Homo sapiens: one gene and its partner. The protein of the gene in region 1 interacts with the protein of each later gene in a pairwise test. Each region holds a gene or a part of one and is shown on either strand. Other genes may lie near its edges. The genes, in order: CCIN and TARDBP.

Region 1 (7,659 bases):
CCCCTCATTTTCCTCAGGGCTTCCAAACAAACTGATATACCAGCCGATAGTCCCCAAAGATTAGAATCATACCATCTCTTCCTAACGGGAGACACCATGAACAGAAAATGTGGCGCCTGGTAGGAAGCTGACGGTGGGTGAAAAGACCCTGCTGAGATCCTTTTCTGGCCCCACCTGGCAAGCTGCCAGCCAATGAACTTCTTGGTGGCTCCTCGGGTCACCCCCCCCACCCCCATACACACACACACACACACACACACAACCAGGTGGTGGAAGCCAGCATGCAGCCAGCCTCTATGGGCTGGAGTTTGTTTCCACAGTTGGCTGGATTGAGGAAAAAGCTGGACCGGGGAGCTTTCCTGGGCTAAAGAAATGCCAGACAGCAAAGCTGGCTGAGCAGGTGGGCACTAATCTCACTTTTAAGGATTTCTTGAAGATGGCAAGCCTCACAATCCAAAAAGAACAAGGACAAACCAAACCGCGGCTCTCCTTTGTAGCCAGAGGGCAGAGGAAGAAGACAGCTCTCTGGTGCAAGCCTCTTCCTCTCCCTGGGCTTCAATTTATCCACCTGTACGAGGTCTGTCACATGGAGTTAGGTCTATCAGTTCTCTCAGGTCCCCATGACACCTCCAGACCCAACTTAATGCTGGAAGTGTCTGATGAGAGAGCTCATTCCTGCCTTGGTGCTCTGGGAGCTGAAACAAAAACAAACAGGCATGGCCACCTCCTCCACTGAAATGCTCCCAAGGCTGAAGCTTGCAGGTGGGAGGGCAGGGGAGAGGACAAAGGAGGTGTGAAGCAGCAGGGCCTGACCCACCCACCCCCTGCTCCCGGGTGAAGATGTCCCAGGAGGCGAGATCTGCCAGCCTGCATGTCCATGGGAGCCAGAAGGTGTCTGGCATCAGCACCAAGAGGCCTCATCATTCACCCAAGTTGCTGCTGCTGCTTTGCAGAAGGTAAGGGCTGAAGAGGCATTAAGGGCTTAATTATTCTCCCAGGGAGACTGGTCTCCGGAGGAGGAGGCTGAAATTGAAGTCTACTTCCAATGGGGAAAACAGAAGTTCTTCACTTTGTGCACGTATCATATCCCAAGAGACCGAGTCTCTCTATCGCATTCGGGCGGGAAGGTGGACAAATTCAGTTTAAAAGGGTATTTTTGGCCAGGTGCGGTGGCTAACGCCTGTAATCCCATACATTAGGAGGCCAAGGTGGGTGGATCACGAGGTCAGGAGTTCAAGACCAGCCTGGCCAAGACGGTGAAACCCCGTCTCTACTAAAAATACAAAAGTTAGCCGGGCGTGGCTGCGCGCGCCTGTAATCCCAGCTACTTGGGAGGCTGAGGCAAGAAATTACTTGAACCCGGGAGGCGGAGGTTGCAGTGAGCCGAGATCGGGCCACTGCACTCCAGCCTGGGGGACAGAGTGAGACTCCATCTCAGAAAAAAAAAAAAAAAAAAGGGAAGGGGCGTATTTTCAAATAATTTTCAAGTTACCAAATCTAAAAATAAGGAAAAGACTAGTCTGGAATGAACGGACGAGGGAGGGAGACAATGAGAATGAGAATATGACTAAGCCAGGGAGGGAAAGAGCTGGAACGGCTCAGATTCCCGAGGCTGATACTGAAATTTCCCGGGAGGGGCACTGAGGACGGCCCGAGGGTCTAGAGTGGGGCTTGGGCCCAGATTGGAGGAGATCAGAGAGGTAAGTCCTTTCTGTACCTTCTCGCGAATGCCTGGGCGAGATGCAAGTCCAGGCCCTTCTCTGGGGTCTCTTCCCAAAGGCTGGTCCGGGTGGGGCTACTGGGCTCTTTTGCCTCCCCCTCCCTCCCGCCCGCGGCGCTCCAGCTGGCGCTTATCCCCTTCTTGCACGAACAGCAGTTCCACAGACGCCCCACAGGACTCCGGGAGCCCCACGCCAGCCAGGAATCTGTCCGAGTCTGCGGGCACCCTCCTCTCTCCCCGCAAAGGACTCGCAGGGGTCAGGAAACCCCCCCAGCTGTTACTGGGAGTCGGAGACAGTCTTCTGGCCTCTGGAGGGCGCGCCTCCGTTGGGGGCTCAGCGTCCCCATCTGTAAAGTGGGGACAGGTGTGTGTCTGGGGAAATCTAAGGAGTCCTGCAAGGCTGAGAGCCCCCGATCCTGCCGTTTGAATTCCAGGGTCGCGGCGGACGGCACGGCGCTGCCGCCTTTGCACGGTGGCGCGTGGAGGCAAAGCGAAAAAGGGGACGCCCCGCGCCTCTTTTCCATCCTGGAGAGGGGTTGGGGTGGTGCCCGGCGCAGAGGCGGTGCGCTCGGGGGCGGGGACGACCCTCCAGCGCCACCGCGTGGCTGGACTGGGTTCGGGCGGCGGGCCCAGAAGAGACGCGAGGTAGCCACAGCCTCCTCAGCTACCGCGAAACCAGAACCACGATGACCACAAGTTTTTATGAAGGGAGCAGCCACGAACGCCGGCGCTGGGCGAACTGGTGTAATATGAGTAAGAAAACGGCAGCTAGCATTGATTGAGCTTTATGACAAGCCCACTACTCTCCAGTCCTTTTCTCATTTAAACTCTAATAATAGGCCGGGCACGGTGGTTCACGCCTATAATCCCAACCCTTTGAGAGGCCGAGGCGGGCGGATCACCTGAGGTCAGGGGTTCGAGACCAGCTTGGCCAACATGGTGAAACCTCGTCTCTACTAAAAATACAAAACTTTGCCGGGCATGTTGACAGGCGCCTGTAATCCCAGCTACTGGGGGTGGGGGGTGAGGGGGGTTGGGGGGTTGGGTAATAAAAGACAGGGGAATTGCAACAGAGAAAGAGTAATTCACACAGAGCCAGCCGTGCGGGAGACTGGAGGGTTTTGTTTTTGTTTTTTGGGGTTTTTTTTTTTGAGACGGAGTCTCACTCTGTCGCCCAGGCTGGAGTGCAATGGTGCGATCTGGGCACGCTGCAACCTCCGCCTCCCGGGTTCGAGCGATTCTGCTGCCTCAGTCTCCCCAGTAGCTGGGATTACAGGCATTACAGGCATGCACCACCACTCCCAACTAATTTTTGTATTTTTAGTAGAGACAGGGTTTTGCCATGTTGGCCAGGCTGGTCTCGAAACCATGACCTCAGGTGATCCGCCCACCTTGGCATCCCAAAGTGCTAGGATTACAAGCATGAGGCACCGCGCCCGGCCTGGAGTTTTATTATTACTCAAATCAGTCTCCCGGAGCATTGGGGGAGCAGAGTTTTTAAAGATAACTTGGTGGGTAGGGGGAAGCCAGTGAGCCAGGAGTGCTGCTGATTGGTCAGAGATGAAATCATGGGAGTTGGAGCTGTCTTCTTGGGCTGAGTCAGTTCTTGGGTCTGGGGGCCACAAGATCAGATGAGCCAGTTTATTGATCTGAGTGGTGCCAGCTGATCCATCAAGTGCAGGTTCTGCAAAATATCTCAAGCACCGGCCGGGCACGGGGGCTCACGCCTGTAATCCCAGCACTTTGGAAGGCTGAGGCAGGTGGATCACCTGAGGTCGGGAGTTTGAGACCAGCCTGACCAACATAGAGAAACCCCATCTCTACTAAAAATACAGAATTAGCCGGGTGTGGTGGTGCATGCCTGTAATCCCAGCTACTCAGGAGGCTGAGGCAGGAGAAACGCTTGAACCCGGGAGTTGGAGGTTGTGGTGAGCCGAGAACGCACCATTGCACTCCGGCCTGGGCAAGAAGAGCGAAACTGTCTAAAAAAAAAAAAAAAGAGAAATCTCAAGCACTGGTCTTAGGAGCAGTTTAGGGAGGGTTAGAATCTTGTAGCCTCCAGCTACATGACTCCTAAACCATAATTTCTAATCTTGTGGCTAATGTTAGTCCTACAAAGGCAATCTAGTCCCCAGGCAAGAAGGAGGTCTGCTTTGGGAAAGGGCTGTCTTTGTTTAAACCGTAAACTATACATATAGGTTTCTCCCAAAGTTAGTTCAGCCTTTGCCAAGGAATGAGCAAGGACAGCTTGGAGGTTAGAAGCAAGATGGAGTCAGTTAAGTTGATCTCTTTCACTGTCTCAGTCATAATTTTGCAAAGGCTGTTTCAAGCTGAGATCGCACCACTGCACTCCAACCTGGGTGACAGAGCGAGACTCTGTCTCAAAAAAATAAAAATAAAAATAAAAATAAACTCATAATAATCTTTGAAGTGGGTACTACTATCAAATATTAGTTCCATCTCACAGAGGAGGAAACTGAGGTTTAGAAAGTCTGATCAACTCGCCCAAGTCCACCTTTGATGGAGAAAGCTGACCCACTGAAGCCCCCAACATTTTCCAACTGGACACTTGGAAATGTTGGGGGAACATTCTAGTTTGCCAAGGAGCTGAAATCATCCGGTCTTTAAAGACCCTCCCATGCCCCCGTTTGTGGTTAACTCCTTCATCCCTGCTCCAGGGAGTGGCCTCCACCTCTCCATTTTGAAGGAGAATGATGTCTGTGGCCACCAAGGTCAGAAGCCAAAGGACAGAGCTTTTCTCTGATGCCCAGGAGCCTTGGCAGGAAGAGTGCTTGGAGAGTTGAGAGTCAGAGACTGGGGAAAGCTGGGTAGTCAGGAGCTTCCAGAAGGGTAGGAAGAATGCGAGGTTCCCCAGGTTCTGGGCCCTGCTCGGCTTCCAACTGGCTATGTGATTTTGGGCAAGTGCCTTCTCTTCTCTGGGCCTCAGTTTCCCTCAAAATGGGAGGATTCTTCTAGGTCTAATAATCTCTTCCCTTTCCCCACCTCCCCTTATCTCTCCTACACAAACTGCTCCCCACTGCCCCACCCAGACTGGCTCTGATATTCCAGAAGCCTTTAACTACGGTTTGAAAGTCCCAGGTGGAAGTTGCCGCCCATCCCTGAGGTTCCTCCTGAGCTCTGGGCCCAGGGCTTTAGGTCCTGCTAGGGTATGTGGCCTTGGCAGGTTGGAGAGATCAGAGGGGAGGAAGGCCCAGTGCCTCTGAGACAGGCCTCAGGGAGGCCTGCATTGTGATGACCTGATCCACTCTATGACATCATCCTCTCTTCCACCCTCTCTTCTCCCTGGTCAACCGCTCTGCAAACAACCATCAATCTGATCCCACAGGCCTGAGAAAGTCTGCTCTCCAGTACCTGCTGCTGATCTGTTTCAGCCGACAAGAGGCACCATGAAATTGGAATTCACGGAGAAAAACTACAATAGCTTCGTGCTGCAGAACCTGAACAGACAGAGGAAACGCAAAGAGTACTGGGACATGGCCCTGAGTGTGGACAACCACGTCTTCTTTGCACATCGCAATGTGCTGGCTGCTGTCTCCCCACTGGTGAGGAGCCTCATCTCCAGCAATGACATGAAGACCGCTGATGAGCTTTTCATCACCATTGACACCAGTTACCTGAGCCCGGTCACAGTGGACCAGCTTCTGGACTACTTCTATAGCGGCAAGGTGGTGATCTCCGAGCAAAATGTGGAGGAGCTGCTTCGTGGGGCTCAGTATTTCAACACACCACGCCTTCGAGTTCACTGTAACGACTTCCTTATTAAGTCCATCTGCCGTGCCAACTGCTTGCGCTACCTCTTCTTGGCTGAGCTGTTTGAGCTCAAAGAGGTATCAGACGTAGCTTACTCTGGCATTCGGGACAACTTCCACTACTGGGCCAGTCCTGAGGGCTCCATGCACTTCATGCGCTGTCCACCTGTTATCTTTGGCCGCCTGCTCCGTGATGAAAACCTTCACGTGCTCAATGAAGACCAGGCGCTCAGCGCACTCATCAATTGGGTGTACTTCCGGAAGGAGGATCGGGAGAAGTATTTCAAGAAGTTCTTCAATTACATCAATCTCAATGCTGTCTCCAATAAGACGCTGGTGTTTGCCAGCAACAAGCTGGTGGGCATGGAGAACACCTCATCCCATACAACCCTGATTGAGAGTGTCCTGATGGACCGCAAGCAGGAGCGGCCATGCAGCCTGCTGGTCTACCAGCGGAAAGGGGCCCTGCTTGATTCCGTGGTCATCCTCGGTGGCCAGAAGGCCCACGGCCAGTTCAATGATGGAGTGTTTGCTTATATCATCCAGGAGAACCTGTGGATGAAGCTCTCAGACATGCCCTATCGGGCAGCAGCACTTAGTGCCACCTCTGCTGGTCGCTACATCTACATCTCTGGTGGCACCACTGAGCAGATTTCAGGGCTGAAGACAGCCTGGCGGTATGACATGGATGACAACTCCTGGACCAAGTTGCCTGACCTGCCCATCGGGCTTGTCTTCCACACCATGGTGACCTGTGGGGGGACAGTGTACTCAGTGGGCGGGAGCATTGCCCCAAGGCGGTATGTCTCCAACATCTATCGCTATGATGAGCGGAAGGAAGTCTGGTGCCTGGCAGGAAAGATGAGCATCCCCATGGATGGCACCGCCGTGATCACTAAAGGAGACAGGCATCTGTACATTGTCACTGGACGGTGCTTGGTGAAAGGTTATATCTCCCGGGTCGGGGTAGTGGACTGCTTTGACACCAGCACTGGGGACGTGGTCCAGTGTATCACCTTCCCCATTGAGTTCAACCATCGGCCCCTGCTCTCTTTCCAACAGGACAACATCCTCTGCGTGCACAGCCACCGGCAGAGTGTGGAAATCAATCTGCAGAAGGTGAAGGCAAGCAAGACGACCACCTCAGTGCCTGTCTTGCCCAACAGCTGCCCCTTGGATGTGTCCCATGCTATATGCTCCATTGGAGACAGCAAGGTGTTTGTATGTGGGGGTGTCACCACTGCCAGCGATGTCCAGACAAAGGACTACACCATCAATCCAAATGCCTTCTTGCTGGACCAAAAGACAGGCAAGTGGAAGACCCTGGCTCCTCCACCAGAGGCACTGGACTGTCCTGCCTGCTGTCTAGCCAAGCTACCTTGCAAGATTCTTCAAAGGATTTAAACATTTTAAGTGGGAGAATAAGTAAATGCATTATTATTCACGATTTAATGAGAGAAAGAGAGGAAGATGGCCTGTTGTTTCCTTCTTAGTGTTCCAGTCCATGCTTGGCCCTGAAGGTGGAGATCCTAGGGGAGGGCTGCTCCCAGTGGGTGGAAACTCAGGGCCACTATGTCATTGGAGGTATCCAACAGGGCCTGGAAAGGAACCCCTGGTGGGTGGAATTGAGGCCCCTCCCAGGCACTGGCCAAGGCGATGTCTGTCCCCTATTCTGTACCCCTGTGATCACCTCTCAGGCATCTGCTAGATTGGCAGGTAAACATCCACTCAGAGCTGTGAAGCATCAAGCTCCTCCAGCACCTGCTTCCCTCCGGTCTTTCACAAAAGCAGGGGAGGACCCGTCCCAGGTCTGAGAGAGGAATCTCATGGCCAGGAAGGAGAAGGTGACCTGGGTAAGACTCAGAAAAGAAGGCAGAAGGAACAGGGGAGGCAAGGTTACTTAGCTTCTGTATTTGCCCATGCAGCTACGGTAGTTTGTGTCTCATTTGTGGGAAAGCTGGAGGTTCCTTACAATTGTTTCTACTAAGCCAAGTACATTGAGAACTTTCTCCAGGAATATGAGTCTGAGGGACTGGGGATAAAAGAGAGGCCAGTAAAGGGAAAAGAAAGAAACATATCCTGGTCGGGCACAGTGGCCCATGCCTGTAATCCCAACACTTCGGAAGGCTGAGGCAGAAGGATCACCTGAGCCCAGGAGTTTGAGACCAG
Region 2 (3,632 bases), on another chromosome or scaffold:
GACAGTGGGGTTGTGGTTGGTTGGTATAGAATGGTGGGAATTCAAATTTTTCTAAACTCATGGTAAGTATATTGTAAAATACATATGTACTAAGAATTTTCAAAATTGGTTTGTTCAGTGTGGAGTATATTCAGCAGTATTTTTGACATTTTTCTTTAGAAAAAGGAAGAGCTAAAGGAATTTTATAAGTTTTGTTACATGAAAGGTTGAAATATTGAGTGGTTGAAAGTGAACTGCTGTTTGCCTGATTGGTAAACCAACACACTACAATTGATATCAAAAGGTTTCTCCTGTAATATTTTATCCCTGGACTTGTCAAGTGAATTCTTTGCATGTTCAAAACGGAAACCATTGATTAGAACTACATTCTTTACCCCTTGTTTTAATTTGAACCCCACCATATGGATTTTTTTCCTTAAGAAAATCTCCTTTTAGGAGATCATGGTGTCACAGTGTTTGGTTCTTTTGTTTTGTTTTTTAACACTTGTCTCCCCTCATACACAAAAGTACAATATGAAGCCTTCATTTAATCTCTGCAGTTCATCTCATTTCAAATGTTTATGGAAGAAGCACTTCATTGAAAGTAGTGCTGTAAATATTCTGCCATAGGAATACTGTCTACATGCTTTCTCATTCAAGAATTCGTCATCACGCATCACAGGCCGCGTCTTTGACGGTGGGTGTCCCATTTTTATCCGCTACTCTTTATTTCATGGAGTCGTATCAACGCTATGAACGCAAGGCTGTGATATGGAACCAGAAGGCTGTCTGAACTTTTGAAACCTTGTGTGGGATTGATGGTGGTGCCGAGGCATGAAAGGCTAGTATGAGCGAGAAAAGGAGAGAGCGCGTGCAGAGACTTGGTGGTGCATAATGGATATTTTTTAACTTGGCGAGATGTGTCTCTCAATCCTGTGGCTTTGGTGAGAGAGTGTGCAGAGAGCAATGATAGCAAATAATGTACGAATGTTTTTTGCATTCAAAGGACATCCACATCTGTTGGAAGACTTTTAAGTGAGTTTTTGTTCTTAGATAACCCACATTAGATGAATGTGTTAAGTGAAATGATACTTGTACTCCCCCTACCCCTTTGTCAACTGCTGTGAATGCTGTATGGTGTGTGTTCTCTTCTGTTACTGATATGTAAGTGTGGCAATGTGAACTGAAGCTGATGGGCTGAGAACATGGACTGAGCTTGTGGTGTGCTTTGCAGGAGGACTTGAAGCAGAGTTCACCAGTGAGCTCAGGTGTCTCAAAGAAGGGTGGAAGTTCTAATGTCTGTTAGCTACCCATAAGAATGCTGTTTGCTGCAGTTCTGTGTCCTGTGCTTGGATGCTTTTTATAAGAGTTGTCATTGTTGGAAATTCTTAAATAAAACTGATTTAAATAATATGTGTCTTTGTTTTGCAGCCCTGAATGCAAAGAATTCATAGCAGTTAATTCCCCTTTTTTGACCCTTTTGAGATGGAACTTTCATAAAGTTTCTTGGCAGTAGTTTATTTTGCTTCAAATAAACTTATTTGAAAAGTTGTCTCAAGTCAAATGGATTCATCACCTGTCATGCATTGACACCTGATACCCAGACTTAATTGGTATTTGTTCTTGCATTGGCCAAAGTGAAAATTTTTTTTTTTCTTTTGAAATCTAGTTTTGAATAAGTCTGGGTGACCGCACCTAAAATGGTAAGCAGTACCCTCCGGCTTTTTCTTAGTGCCTCTGTGCATTTGGGTGATGTTCTATTTACATGGCCTGTGTAAATCTCCATTGGGAAGTCATGCCTTCTAAAAAGATTCTTATTTGGGGGAGTGGGCAAAATGTTGATTATTTTCTAATGCTTTGTAGCAAAGCATATCAATTGAAAAGGGAATATCAGCACCTTCCTAGTTTGGGATTTGAAAAGTGGAATTAATTGCAGTAGGGATAAAGTAGAAGAAACCACAAATTATCTTGTGCCTGAAATCCATTAAGAGGCCTGATAGCTTTAAGAATTAGGGTGGGTTGTCTGTCTGGAAGTGTTAAGTGGAATGGGCTTTGTCCTCCAGGAGGTGGGGGAATGTGGTAACATTGAATACAGTTGAATAAAATCGCTTACAAAACTCACACTCTCACAATGCATTGTTAAGTATGTAAAAGCAATAACATTGATTCTCTGTTGTACTTTTTTGTAACTAATTCTGTGAGAGTTGAGCTCATTTTCTAGTTGGAAGAATGTGATATTTGTTGTGTTGGTAGTTTACCTAATGCCCTTACCTAATTAGATTATGATAAATAGGTTTGTCATTTTGCAAGTTACATAAACATTTATCAATGAAGTCATCCTTTAGACTTGTAATCGCCACATTGTTTCATTATTCAGTTTCCTCTGTAAAGGGATCTTGAGTTGTTTTAATTTTTTTTTTCTGCATCTGAATCTGCATGATTTCCAAACCCTGTACCATCTGAATTTTGCATTTTAGCACTTGCACTATTACTCAGCAGCAGTAACATGGTAACACTTAAAATGGTACTCGGGGACCTCCAAAGACTAAACTGACAAGCCTTCAAGGAGCCCAGGGGTAAGTTAACTTGTCAACGGCATGGTTTAATCCCTTCTTTACACTTGTGTAAATTTCAGTTACTGGTCATAGAAGGCTTTCAATGTTGAGTGGCCTTTTATTAACATGTTTATGGTACTGCATAGATACGGGTATTTATTTTACCCTAAGAAGATTTTGAAGTTTAAAAGTACTTAAACTATTTGGCAAAGATTTGTTTTTAAAAATCTATTTGGTCAATCTAAATGCATTCATTCTAAAAAATTTTTTGAACCAGATAAATAAAATTTTTTTTTGACACCACAGTTTAGTGTCTGGAGTCTTACTGGAAAAACACGATTTCTTTTTATATGTGATATACAGATGCTGGAAAGTTACCTTTAAAAATTGAGTCTCTAAAGAAAAAAGAAAATAATAAAAATTGAGTCTCAAGAAGTTGTACTTCATATGCACAAGAGAAATGAGGCCAAGACTCACAGTAAGCTTTTACATGGAATGGTAACTTTTAGTTAGACTGAAAAACTTGAATGTTAGCTATTAAAACCTTTTAGGAAGGAATAGCCAGCTAAAACCAAATGAGATTTTTAAAGTTAAATCAGCACTTAAGTTGTGTCCTTAGTAGGAAAAAGTAGGAAGTTAACTACTCCGTAATCCAAGAGATAATGTGTAACAGTAAGAATGATTTTGTTGTTGTTGAGTATGAGCAAAGTAGCCCCTAAGTGTGTATTAGGGTTCTGTACTTAACTGTTGTGTGATGTGTGCTTTTGTTAGGCATCACTGTGCCCAAGTATTTCATGTTCATTGTAAAGAGGAAAAATACAGATTTCTCTATAATGTCACCACTTATTTCTAATGCCACTTTTCATCTTGTGGAAATGCCATGTTTTGATTCAGTCTTCTGAATTTGAACATTATTCAGGTTATTTCCAATTGCTGGGAATATCCTTACTGCTAAAATAAATTCTTAGCATTGGAATTGCTAGGTCAAAGATTATGCATGCTTTTTAAGGGCTTTTGAAATGTATTGCCAGTCTGTGGCCTGCCACCCTCCCTGAACATGCCTGGTCTTGCTTAAAATGTATTGCCAAATAGTCCTTG

What was found.
Region 2: the proteins of CCIN (region 1) and TARDBP interact in binary tests that used the Homo sapiens proteins (3 or more experiments, as listed by UniProt).

What each region holds. Positions count from the first base shown.
Region 1 is NC_000009.12:36,164,376-36,172,034, forward strand, and holds CCIN (calicin), read left to right. Parts: upstream 1-5,012; 5' UTR 5,013-5,127; coding exon 5,128-6,894; 3' UTR 6,895-6,959; downstream 6,960-7,659. UniProt on the Homo sapiens protein: Required for both nuclear and acrosomal shaping during spermiogenesis.
Region 2 is NC_000001.11:11,022,654-11,026,285, forward strand, and holds the end of TARDBP (TAR DNA-binding protein 43), read left to right. Parts: coding exon 1-1; 3' UTR 2-2,839; downstream 2,840-3,632. UniProt on the Homo sapiens protein: RNA-binding protein that is involved in various steps of RNA biogenesis and processing.